2 separate regions of the Homo sapiens genome follow, and region 1 is linked to region 2. Evidence: fine-mapped expression QTL. A gene starts in region 2. The other region holds a variant in brackets. All regions are shown on one strand. Distances are between the middles of the regions.

Region 1 (5,373 bases), 28 kb before region 2:
GTGGATATGGCCAGACAGATCCTTTCTATCCAACTCAATAAAATTTGGGGGAGCATTTATATCAGTATCTATTTGGTCTCCTCCTCCTATAAAGAGTAAATCCTCAAAGCATAACTGAGGGAAAGGCACGAAGGAAGCCAGAAGGACTTTGGTGTATTTGCCTCAGTAAGTAGGGGTGGCCAAAGCAAACCAGGTCTTCTCCCCGATTTGGCCCATGGTCCTGCAGAGACTACCGAGGCGCACCAGGATATCTGGTGCTCACAGACAGGTCTCCTGGCGGGTGCTTCCCGAGTGTCCTGGAGACAAGCAGCCACTGTGTCCCTTTTCCCAGGAATGCTGATGAGGGCTTCTGCCCCTGAATCCCATTCCCTTGCATAGTGACTCCTCCCTTGGGGGTGTCTTTAAGGGAGCAGCAAGGATAAAGGTATGACAGCTCACACAAGTGCTTGTTCTGGGCCTGTCTAAATTCATCACCGCCCTGTATTATTCCCATTTGACTGCTGAGGCACAGGGAAGGTAGGAAACTTGTCCAAGGTCATGCTCTTCCTGCCTGACATATTTGGGATTTTTGAATCTAAGCAGGGGAGCTTGGTGCTCTTACCTGATAGCGAACCCTGCACAGTGAGGTGGGCCCCGGGCCACTCAGCCTCACACCTGTGTAGAGACATGACCCAAGTAGCTGGGGAAGGGCAGAGGTGGGTCTGAGGCCACCTGCTTCAGAGGAACAAGTGGCACTGGCTGTTCCTCCAGCCCCACGCCCCAAATCTCTGCTTCTCCATCAGGCAGCAAAACAAAGACTGGAAGGACGTGAGGGCTGCCTGGGGGTTGGGGCAAGGGAGGACCTTTGTTCAAGAGCTTCCATGTTTGTATGATGTCTTTCAGGACAGTGTCCAAATGTATGTCTGTACACTTAGTATGGTATTCCCCAGTCTGAACATGTGTTCCCTTCCTCTGCCTCCTGGAGTGCTGCTCCCAGCCTTGCAAAGCTAAGTGACGGCCAGAAACTAAGCAGGCAGGCCGGGCGTGGTTGCTCACGCCTGTAATCCCAAAACTTTGGGAGGCTGAAGTGGGTGAATCACCTGAGGTCATGAGTTCGAGACCAGCCTGGCCAACATGGTGAAACCCAATCTCTACTAAAAACACCAAAAAAAAAAAAAAAAAAAAAATTAGCCGGGCATGGTGGTGGGTGCCTGTAATCCCAGCTACTCGGGAGGCTGAGGCAGGAGAATCGCTTGAACCCAGGAGGCAGAGGTTGCAGTGAGCCGAGATTGTGCCATTGCACTCCAGTCTGTGTGACAAGAGCGAAACTCCACCCCCCCCAAAAAAAAAAAAAAAAAAAAAAAACTAAGCAGGCGGAGGAAGGGGACAGCATGACGAGAGTAAAGGACCCAGGGGATCTGTGGTTTTCTGGCTCTCTGGCTGTAGCACATCCTGGAGGAGTCAGCAAGCACAGCCTCGTCAGTGTCCCCCAGGGCGGCGGCTGCAGCAGCAAGGGGATTTTTTTTAACGTGGTGTGGCAAAGAGGCTTCGTGTCCACTCAGCTGCCAGTCTAAGGACTTCTGTCGTCTTTGCCGACTCAGAGACGTCCAGACACTGAGCTGTTATTTCAAGTACATTTCTCCTGTTCATCTTGCCGGGAAAAATGACCTTTTAATGCTCCTAATAAATAAGGATGTAACCAGAGGTGGGGGTTGTCCTGCAGTCAGGGACAGTTGGCACCAATGACAACCAGGGTCCTGAGGGAGACCTTCTACTCCACCCATGTCAGCCATCCAAAATGCAGCTGTTTCTTAGAGTGAGGACACTGGCTCAGGGTTCCCCATTCTCTCACAGGCTTGAGAGGAGAAAGGGGTCCACTGTCTCACGTCCTGTCCCTGCAGATTCTGGGGAATGAAATGCAGTCGTCTGATATAGATCCCCAAAAAGGTGTCATTGAGACCTACTCAGCATCCTTCTTATCAAGAATAAAGGACCCTGTGGCTTGGCAGGGGAGTGCTGTTCTGGCCTTCCTCTGAACCACAGTGGCGTATCCTGGGTGCTTTGGTTCTACGAACTTATGGGGTAGAAGCAAAGCAGGCATGAGCACAACCTGATCGACTGTGCAACACAATGCTTAAACCAACCTCCAAATGATCTATCCCTAGAATAGCAGCACCCCTGCCTCCTAAGGCTGACATTATTTGCCTACAACTAGGTTCTCATTTGCCGGGAAGCCTCCTTTCAACCACCTCTCTCTCTGCCGCCTTCCAGATCTTGTCCACTTTGATATTCCCTCGATCCACATAGAGCTCGGGTCGACGCTCCGCCTGAGTCCCCTGGAGCACATGCGGCGACACTCAGTAACTGACAAGAGGGACTCGGAGGAGGAGTCTGAGAGCACCGCCCTCTGACATGACACCGCCCATCCTGCCTCGCGTGTACATACATCACGGGCCCTAGGAACGCCGCCAGGAGCAGCGTCCATGAGCTTGCCAAGTGTTCTCTGCTGGCTCTTTCCTGCCACTGCCAACACGAGGTTGGAATTTGGCAGAAAATTGTGATCTCCAGTCCGTGTGGTGATGCTGGTGGTGCAGGTTTTGTTTGTTCCTTTCGGGTGGTGACTTCGGCCTTTTGTTTGACCTTTGCCTTTTGACTTTGTGCCTCTTTTGATCCACTTTCAGCCTCCATGCCAGAAAACACCCACCTCTCCATCCAAGGCTGGTCAGGAACGTCCTTTGCAGGGTCGGGGTGGTGCGGGAGAGGCTCACTTTGCCTGGTTAGACCCAAGGGCTGCTACCTTTTCCTTGGACGGCTCATGTCAGGTCTTGCAGGATCAGTTTAATGGCCACAGAAAGGAAGCAGGACAGCAGGGCCCCTCTCACCCACAACTGGACCAGGTCCAGGATTCTAGCAGTCCTGGGGCACTGACCTTTGCCAGCTACCTGGGGGAGGGCTTGCCACTGGAAAACCTTTCAGGCCGCCCCCATCAGTGGGCTCCAAAGTAAATGGCTGAAAACAAAAATGTTTCACTTCCTAACAGTTTTCCTTTTTCCACTGTGTGACTGAAAGCTCCTATATCATTTTATATTTCTGAATCTATAAAACAAAACAAACAAGCCTGA[C/A]AGTGTCTGGAGGAGCCAAAGGTGGCCTCCCTGTCCCCAAATATATTGGCTATATGAGAGTAATTTTACCCCTCTACGTACCTAAAGGCACCCAGTTCACTAGTCTGTGGGGTCCTGGAGCCTGTCTCTTCTTTCTGGAGGTTCAAACTGAATAGCAATAATTACGTTACCCAAAGCATGTGGAGGAAAAGTGAAACCAGCCACGGAGACGCTGGCCCACGGGCTCGGCCTGCGGTGTGGCCTGCTTTGCTCACCAGCGTCAGCCGCTCATTTCCTTCTCATGAAGTCCCATCTGGTCATGGGGACGAGGGCCGGGAGGGCACCGGGTAGCCTTTTCACACTTGGGGATTAGGGGAGTGAGAAAAGATTTGGGCCATGCATGCAAAGTCAAAGTTTAAAATTTTATCCTTTTCAAATAGATGATATAATATACCTATACATGATATAATATTTGTATATATGAAATCTCTCTATATTTGTTTAATTTGAGCCATTCAATCTAAACCAATGTACAGGTGTACAATGAAAAATTTAAATGCTTAGTTATTTTTCCCAACACAGTGTAAAGTCACCCTCCTCTGAGAGTGGGATGTGCAGAGTTTTGATGTTGCAGCTTTGCTCACTTCCTGGCAAGGGCAGGTCATGCCTCAATTTGTAATGGGAGTCTGGGGTAAGGGTGGGGGTTGAAAGTTGTTATCTTTAAATACATGTACAAATCGTTGTCAAAAGTAACGTTATTAAAATAGATTTATTATCCCTGAGCTTGGCATCTGTTCTTGCTTTAATAAACCTGCGGGGACATGGCCGTCAATCTCAAATGCACACCGGGATGGAGCCTGAAGGTCACCACCTGTGTAAAGCCAGGTCCCTGGCTGATCTCTCGCTTGCTTGTCTTTTGAGTTTTTAAAGCTCTTCTTTTTACATTCTCCTGGGTAGGGAATATACACAATAAATACTAGATTCAACTTACTTACTTACTTACTTACTTTACTTACTTACTTCCTTGGAAAATGCTCTCCATTTGTCGAGCACTAATCCACGTCTGTAAATCCCGCAAGGAGGACAATGGAAACCAGCCCCGTGTGCCATTTCTCAAAACCTTCGAGGGCAAAGTGATCCTCACTCCTCTCAGTATGGAAGCAACAACACAGCAAATCTATTGTCTCCACTTTTACCCAGAACCACCAGAAGACTTGCATTTCCCTGACCAATGACACCAGCCCAGCCAGGCTCTCACTGATTGATTTGATTGATTGATTGATTGATTGATAGAGAAAGCACGCCCTGCTGTGAGCTGGCACAGCTCGAGTTGTCAAAAAGACTTGGCGAATAAGGGTGGCTCTCTGAGGACAGGTTCCAGAGGTGCTCACTACGACGGGAGCTGACTTCTTCCAAGCCACCCGGGTACCAGGCAGCTGCCACACTACAGCACAGAGAGCCTTCTCCAAGGTGGTGCACAGCAGACCCTGCTCTGTAGCAGCAGCAGGAGGAAGCAAAAGAACTCACAATTGCAAACTCAATCTTTATTGCAGCTGAAATACTATTTTCGTTAAGTCTCGGACACTTAGACCCACTGATCCTGTTACTCTGCTTGTCTCTGGTGTGCAGGGAATCACTTTGCTGGATTAGAGGAAAGGTGCCGCCGTCTGTTTCCAAGACTTCTTTAAAAACTGCCTTGAAATGAAATTAGTTCATCTGCTTGCTTCCGTGTGGCAGCCTCCTGGCCCGCGGCTGTGCCAGGCACCAGTCCTAAGAGGCATCTATAGACTAGTGCTTATGTGGGAGCCCAAGCCTCGGCACAGCTCCATACCACCTATCCTGAGCTGCCTCCTGGGGGACCGTGCTCTTCAGCTTCTACCAGCAAGGAGGGCAGATACGGGTGCGTGCGTGGGGCAGAAGACACACAGCCTTCTGAGTTCAGGGTCTCCCAGATCTTCACTGGGCTCTGACCTTCTTGGCCTGTGGCTCCTCTGTGTGGGCCCGCTTCTGCTGAGGCTCCCCATCCTCCAGGCCGCCTGCCAGCTCCCTGGACAGGAGGGCCGCCCGCACCTGCCGCAGCTCCCGCTTCTCCCTGCGCTCCTCCATCTCCTCGATGTCGCCAGCAAACAGGGCTTTCAGTGGGGGAATCAGCTTGGGCATTGTTGGAAAGTCTCCAAAGCAGACCTAGAAGACACAATAGAAGACAAGGACATGTCTCAGAGGGGCAGGGGTGGGGGACAGGAGCTGGAAGGGATGCAGTCATGTGCTCACACAGCAGCGCCAACGCCCCTTC
Region 2 (5,315 bases):
CTAGGGTGAAGCAGCAAGGCACCCAGTGTGCAAAATGTAAGGAATCATGCAAGTGAAGGGCTGGCACCCTAAGTGCCTCACCCTAGTCTCAGCCCTGAGAAGGGAGACTGGTCTAACACTTCACTCCTTCCGGTCCATGCCACCAAGCCCACACAATTTGGCTGCAACACAATCCTGACCTTCCGGTTGATAGACATAAATGACAGGGTAATCTGGACAGTGGGTATGTGTGTGGCTGCCAATGTGCCAATGGCGTCTGCGGTAAACATATTAACTGTAATCACCACTGCTAGACTCTCCAGTTTACTGCCACAAATCTCTGTCCCCGCAACGCAAGAAACTAAGTGGATGGTAACACTTAAGAGGTGGTATCCATATTAAAATCTGTTCTCCTGAGTCACAGCTTTTAATGCTCTGTGCTGCTGCTGACTGGGCTGGTATAAAAAGAATTCCAGGCCAGGTGCGGTGGCTCATGCCTGTAATCCCAGCACTCTGGGAGGCCGAGACAGGAGGATCGCAGAAGTTTGAGACCAGCCTGGGCAACATAGCAAAACCCCGTCGCTACAAAACATACAAAAAAAATTAGCCAGGTGTGATGGGGCACACGTGTGGTCCCAGCTATTTGGGAGGCTGAGGTGAGGGGATCACCTGAGCCCAGAAGGCAAAGGTTGCAGTGAGCCAAGATCACGCCACTGACAAAAAAAAAAAAAAAAAAAAAAGTAGCTGCCCACCCCAGACTTGGAAAAATGGTAAAGCCGGTTAAAATCCCAGAGACTTCCCACCAGCCTCTGACACTGCAAAGAATATACTCACCACTTAAGCCCCCAACATTAGACCAGTGCATTCGTGTCAGGAATATGTTGTCCAGGCGAGCAACCTTTAACCTAAGAATGAAAAAACATTTAAACAGGATAACATGAACAGAACAAGGACCACTTTTGCTATAAAAAACAACTGGCCTCTCATTTCGGCTTTCAAGCCCCGTAATCAACTCCCCCTCCGAAAGCAAGAGACTGACTCACTTGTGCTCCTGCATGAGTCTCTGAACGCCTTCTCCACAGTTGAAGAGATACCTACAAGACAAACATTACACAAGACATTCAGAAGGTTTTATTCTGTAAACTCTCTGACACCAATTAGATGTTTTATTGTAGACTCTGGAAAAAAAAAAAAGAAAAAAAAATTAAAAGTCCACGTTGGACTACCGAGCCACATTTATGCTGGTGGGTTTTGAGCCCTCCTTAGCAGAGGTGGAGAGGAGTGGGGGCCTGTGTGTGTGGGTGCTAGGACAAAATGAGTCCTTTCTCCACCACCGGCTACACACCAGATCTGTCCACCCCACACGCTAACAACGACACACTGGCCTTGGGGTGCACGGAAGAGGGTGGAGCTCCGAAAGTGCTGACAGCCAGGCCGGGGCCCAAGGGTTGGGAAAAGGACGCTCAGACCCAGGCCTGAAGTTCTTCACAGATCCGCAGAAATCACATGGATGCAAAGAATCTCGGATTTCCCACCCACCATAACTCCACGAACCCCCGCAACAGTGAACCACATGTGTGAAGCAGGGAAGCCGAAGCCCTGGGAGGTGCCCCGATGCTCAGAGGCTGCGCCGCACTGAGGGCCCAGCGGGACGGGGCGTGGCTCGTTGACTGACCGGTTGAACTCGGAGAAGACGTAGAGCGCGGCGCCCGAGTCCCGGCTACCCGCTGCCACCACCTGCAGGTACACGGTGTTTGGGCCGCCGGAGCACCCCGACGGTCCGCGCTTCTCTCGCGTGCGCAGGTGCCGCAGCGGGTCCTTGCGCGGCCGCTCGCGGCGGGCGGGTGCCTGCGATATGGTGCGTCCCTGCGACATGGTGCGTCCGGCCGCGGACCGCAGCAGCGAGCAAAGCGCCCACATGCGCCCGTCTCCACCAAAACTGAGAAAGCCGCCGGTCACCTACGCCCGCGTTTCCCGTGCACCACCTAGCCGCTCCGCATGGCGGATCCAGCCAATCAGCGCGCCGTGCACCGAGCTTCCCGCCTACGCGAGGCTGCTCATCCAATAGAAAGGAGCTTTACCGCTCGGGACTTGTCAATTGACAGTGGCCATAGAGTAGAGGAATACTAGAGCGTCTCAAGCGGCCCCGCCCCTAGTTCTGTTCCGGTTTGCCGGCCGCAATTTTTTCCGGAAGCTGTTTTTCTCCTGGGGCGGGACTTCCGGAAGCACAGTGCCAGGAAAAGCCTTCCTGGGGAAGGCGGGACCTAGGAGTTTGGAGTTTCGCTAAAACGCTCCTGTTCTCACCAGATAAGAGCTGTGTCCTCCGGGCACGTCAGTCCCTCAGAGCTTGAGTTAGAGGTGGTTGTAGTGGTTGTGAGGATTAAATGTGAGGAAATCAATTGTATTGAGCATTAGCATAAGCGCTTTGCTAATTTTATTTCCATTGTAATTCGTATGCATACATGTTAGAACTTGATCATTTTTACGTGGTGTCCCGAGCTTGTAGTCCCAGCTACTTGGGAGGCTGAGGCAGGAGAATCGCTTAAGCGCGGAGGCGGAGGTTGCGGTGAGTCGAAATCGCGCCACTGCACTCCAGCCTGGGTGACACCTCGAGACCCTGTCTCAAAACAAAACAAAACAAAACAAAAATTGTAGTGTTTTTTGGAAAGAAAAGCAAGAATAGAGGACAAGCTCTAAAGCAAGAGTCTTGGCTCATTTGTTAGCTGCGTGATCTTGACCTCTCAGAGCCTCAGCTTTCTTATGTGTAAAATGTAATAACAGCAATAACAGTATCTCCTACTTCAGAATATAGAATTCAGTCACCTGATAATATATCAATAGACCTTTGAGTGGCACTGTCACAGAAGAGGCACCCAGTAAATGATAGAAAATTAATACAAAATGTTTCAACTCCTAGACAATATAGCTGACCAGGGACATCACAGAGGTAGATGTCCCAATACCAGCTTTTTGAAAAAAACACCCAGTCCCCTCTTATGTAGCTAATGAGGATTTCTCACTGAAAGGGATATCAGTTAAAGCCGCTAGAAATACAGGGAGCTCCCTTAAAAGAGGAAGATAATTTACCTGGAAGCTCCACTCAAATATGATTTTTTAAAGATAATTTACCTGGAAGCTCCACTGACATATGATTTTTTTAAATAAATACTGAAAGATGTCACTTTTATTCAGGAAGTAAGGGAGATTCAAGTCATGTAGATTCCTACTCGAAAATCTTGACACCTGACTTTCCAGGATCACATTTTCATATGGAGACCAGTTTCCTCTTGGTTTCTTCAGTTAAGTCAAAACTACACGTTCCTCTTTCCCCATATATTTTTGCTCATTAGTGTATTTCTTGAGCTGTTTTCATTCAAATATGAAATTTTTTATGGAAGATTATCACCCACGGTGTGAAAACGTTTTGTACTTGAAATAACCATCCCAGTGAGGGTCAGGAAAACACTTCAGATCTACTTTACACAGTTAGAGGGCGTTACAAACTGAAAAGATTATCATACCACCATCTCCATAAGTATTTGAAATAAAAATGATAGTTTTTAAAAGTTGCTTAAAGCCTGGGCACCGTGGCACATATCTGTAATCCCAGCACTTTGGGAGGCCAAGGCGGGAGAATAGCTTCAGGCTAGTAGTTCAAAACCTGCTCTGTGGCCAGGCATGGTGGCTTATGCCTGTAATCCCAGCACTTTGGGAGGCCGAGGCAGGTGGATCACCTGAGGTCAGGAGTTCGAGACCAGCCTGGCCAACATGATGAAACCCCGTCTCTACTAAAAACACAAAAATTAGCCGGGAGTGGTTGCATGGGCCTGTAATCCCAGCTACTGGGGAGGTTGAGGCAGGAGAATCACTTGAACCCCAGAGACAGAGGTTGCAGTGAGCCAAGATCACACCATTGCACTCCAGCCTGGGTGACAGAGGGAGATTCCATCTCAAAAACAAACAAACAAACCAGCTCTGGCAACAAAGCGAGACCTCATCTCTACCAAAAAATACTAAAAAATTTAAAAATAAGTAAAAATTAGCTGGACATGGTGGCACACACCTGTTGTCCCAGCTACTCTGAAGGCTGAGACAGGAGGATCACATGAACCCAGGGGTTTGAGGCTGCAGTGAGCTATGATCATACCACTTTACTCCAGCCTGGCTGACAGAGTGAGACACTCTCTACAAAAAAAAAAAAAAAAAAAAAAGAAAAAGAAAATTAATTCATTAAAACTACTTTTAAAAAGTGTAGTGCAATAAATAAAATACTGATTTTTTTCCTGTGATGACTGCTTTGATCCTTTTAAAAAATATATCAAATTTCACAAACAAAAATACATTGGTTCCTCTATTTTATTGGTGCCCTATGTGCATATCTATCTGTTGGGTAATCTCAAACTACTTATCTCAAAATTATAGGAGGAATCACTTTTGGTCATCGACTTATATAAAATTCTGAGGGCTGGATGCTATTTAGGTTGTTTCTAGGGCCCAGTGTACTTTCTGCACTTATGCTTTGGGTCATATTTTTATTCCTGGTATATGAAGACAATAGCTAGTACTTCTTCAATCTGAGGTTATACTGGAATGTAAATTTCATGAGCCTGGGATTTGTCTATCTGGTCCTCTGCTGTATCATTAGCTCCTAGGACAGAGTCTGGCTTGTGGCAGACAATAAATACTAGGAAATTAGAAGCAAGCCAGTAGCTTAAATGAGGTTTTCAGTTTACAACTAAGCAGGGCCTAAAATTGAATCAAGACAACAATGTATGTGTTTTCTGAAGGGGATTGGTGTGACTGGTACCTCCAAAAGGATAGTTCAGAGAGTCTGAAACAGAAAAGTGTCTCTGGACTTGCTGGAGTAGAGGCAGCCTGACCATCGGGACAGCAGAGAAAGTGGAAATCGAGGCGACAGACTTTCAGAAGTCAGTGATATTAACAATTAATATAATACAGCCACTTCCTCTTGCTTTGAGTCTCTTTTTGTTATCCATTTTGTATATGGGCAGCTTGTGGCTTGAAATCACTTTCAGTCCTTTTGTTGGTCACGGTTGTGTTTAGTAAGAATAGCCTGTCTCTGCTCCTTGCAGTGGCTGCTGGGTGGCTCAATGGGAGTGGAACCTCACACTCACAGGTGTGGGTCCTGGGTACTGGCCCTGCTGGGGGTGCTTTGGTTCATTTCCCATTGCCTCTCCATCCATGTAGACTGTCCACATTCAGTAGTTAGGCTGAGCTTCTCTGAATGGTGGTCAGCCTCCAAAAGGATGAAATGAAATTGCAATGCTTCTGAAGAATTAGGCCCAGAAGTCAACGCAAGACACAGACAGCACCCA

The links.
Region 1: its variant is fine-mapped to the expression of ELAC2 in CD4 T cells (BLUEPRINT, PIP 0.95).

What each region holds. Positions count from the first base shown.
Region 1 is chr17:12,987,782-12,993,154 of GRCh38, forward strand. It overlaps ARHGAP44 (Rho GTPase activating protein 44), which reads left to right. Exons shown (of 21, transcript NM_014859.6): 21 at 2,251-3,862. The coding sequence ends at 2,390. ELAC2 (elaC ribonuclease Z 2) reads right to left here. Exons shown (of 24, transcript NM_018127.7): 24 at 3,831-5,264. The coding sequence ends at 5,037. Among named protein-coding and RNA genes, the nearest start is that of ELAC2, 28 kb to the right of the region's middle. The variant C/A (reference allele first, on the strand shown) is at 3,102.
Region 2 is chr17:13,016,049-13,021,363 of GRCh38, forward strand. It overlaps ELAC2 (elaC ribonuclease Z 2), which reads right to left and starts at 1,979. Exons shown (of 24, transcript NM_018127.7): 1 at 1,655-1,979; 2 at 1,023-1,073; 3 at 814-884. The coding sequence starts at 1,899. RefSeq lists enhancers at 1,295-1,795, 1,307-1,416, 1,437-1,496 and a silencer at 2,017-2,096.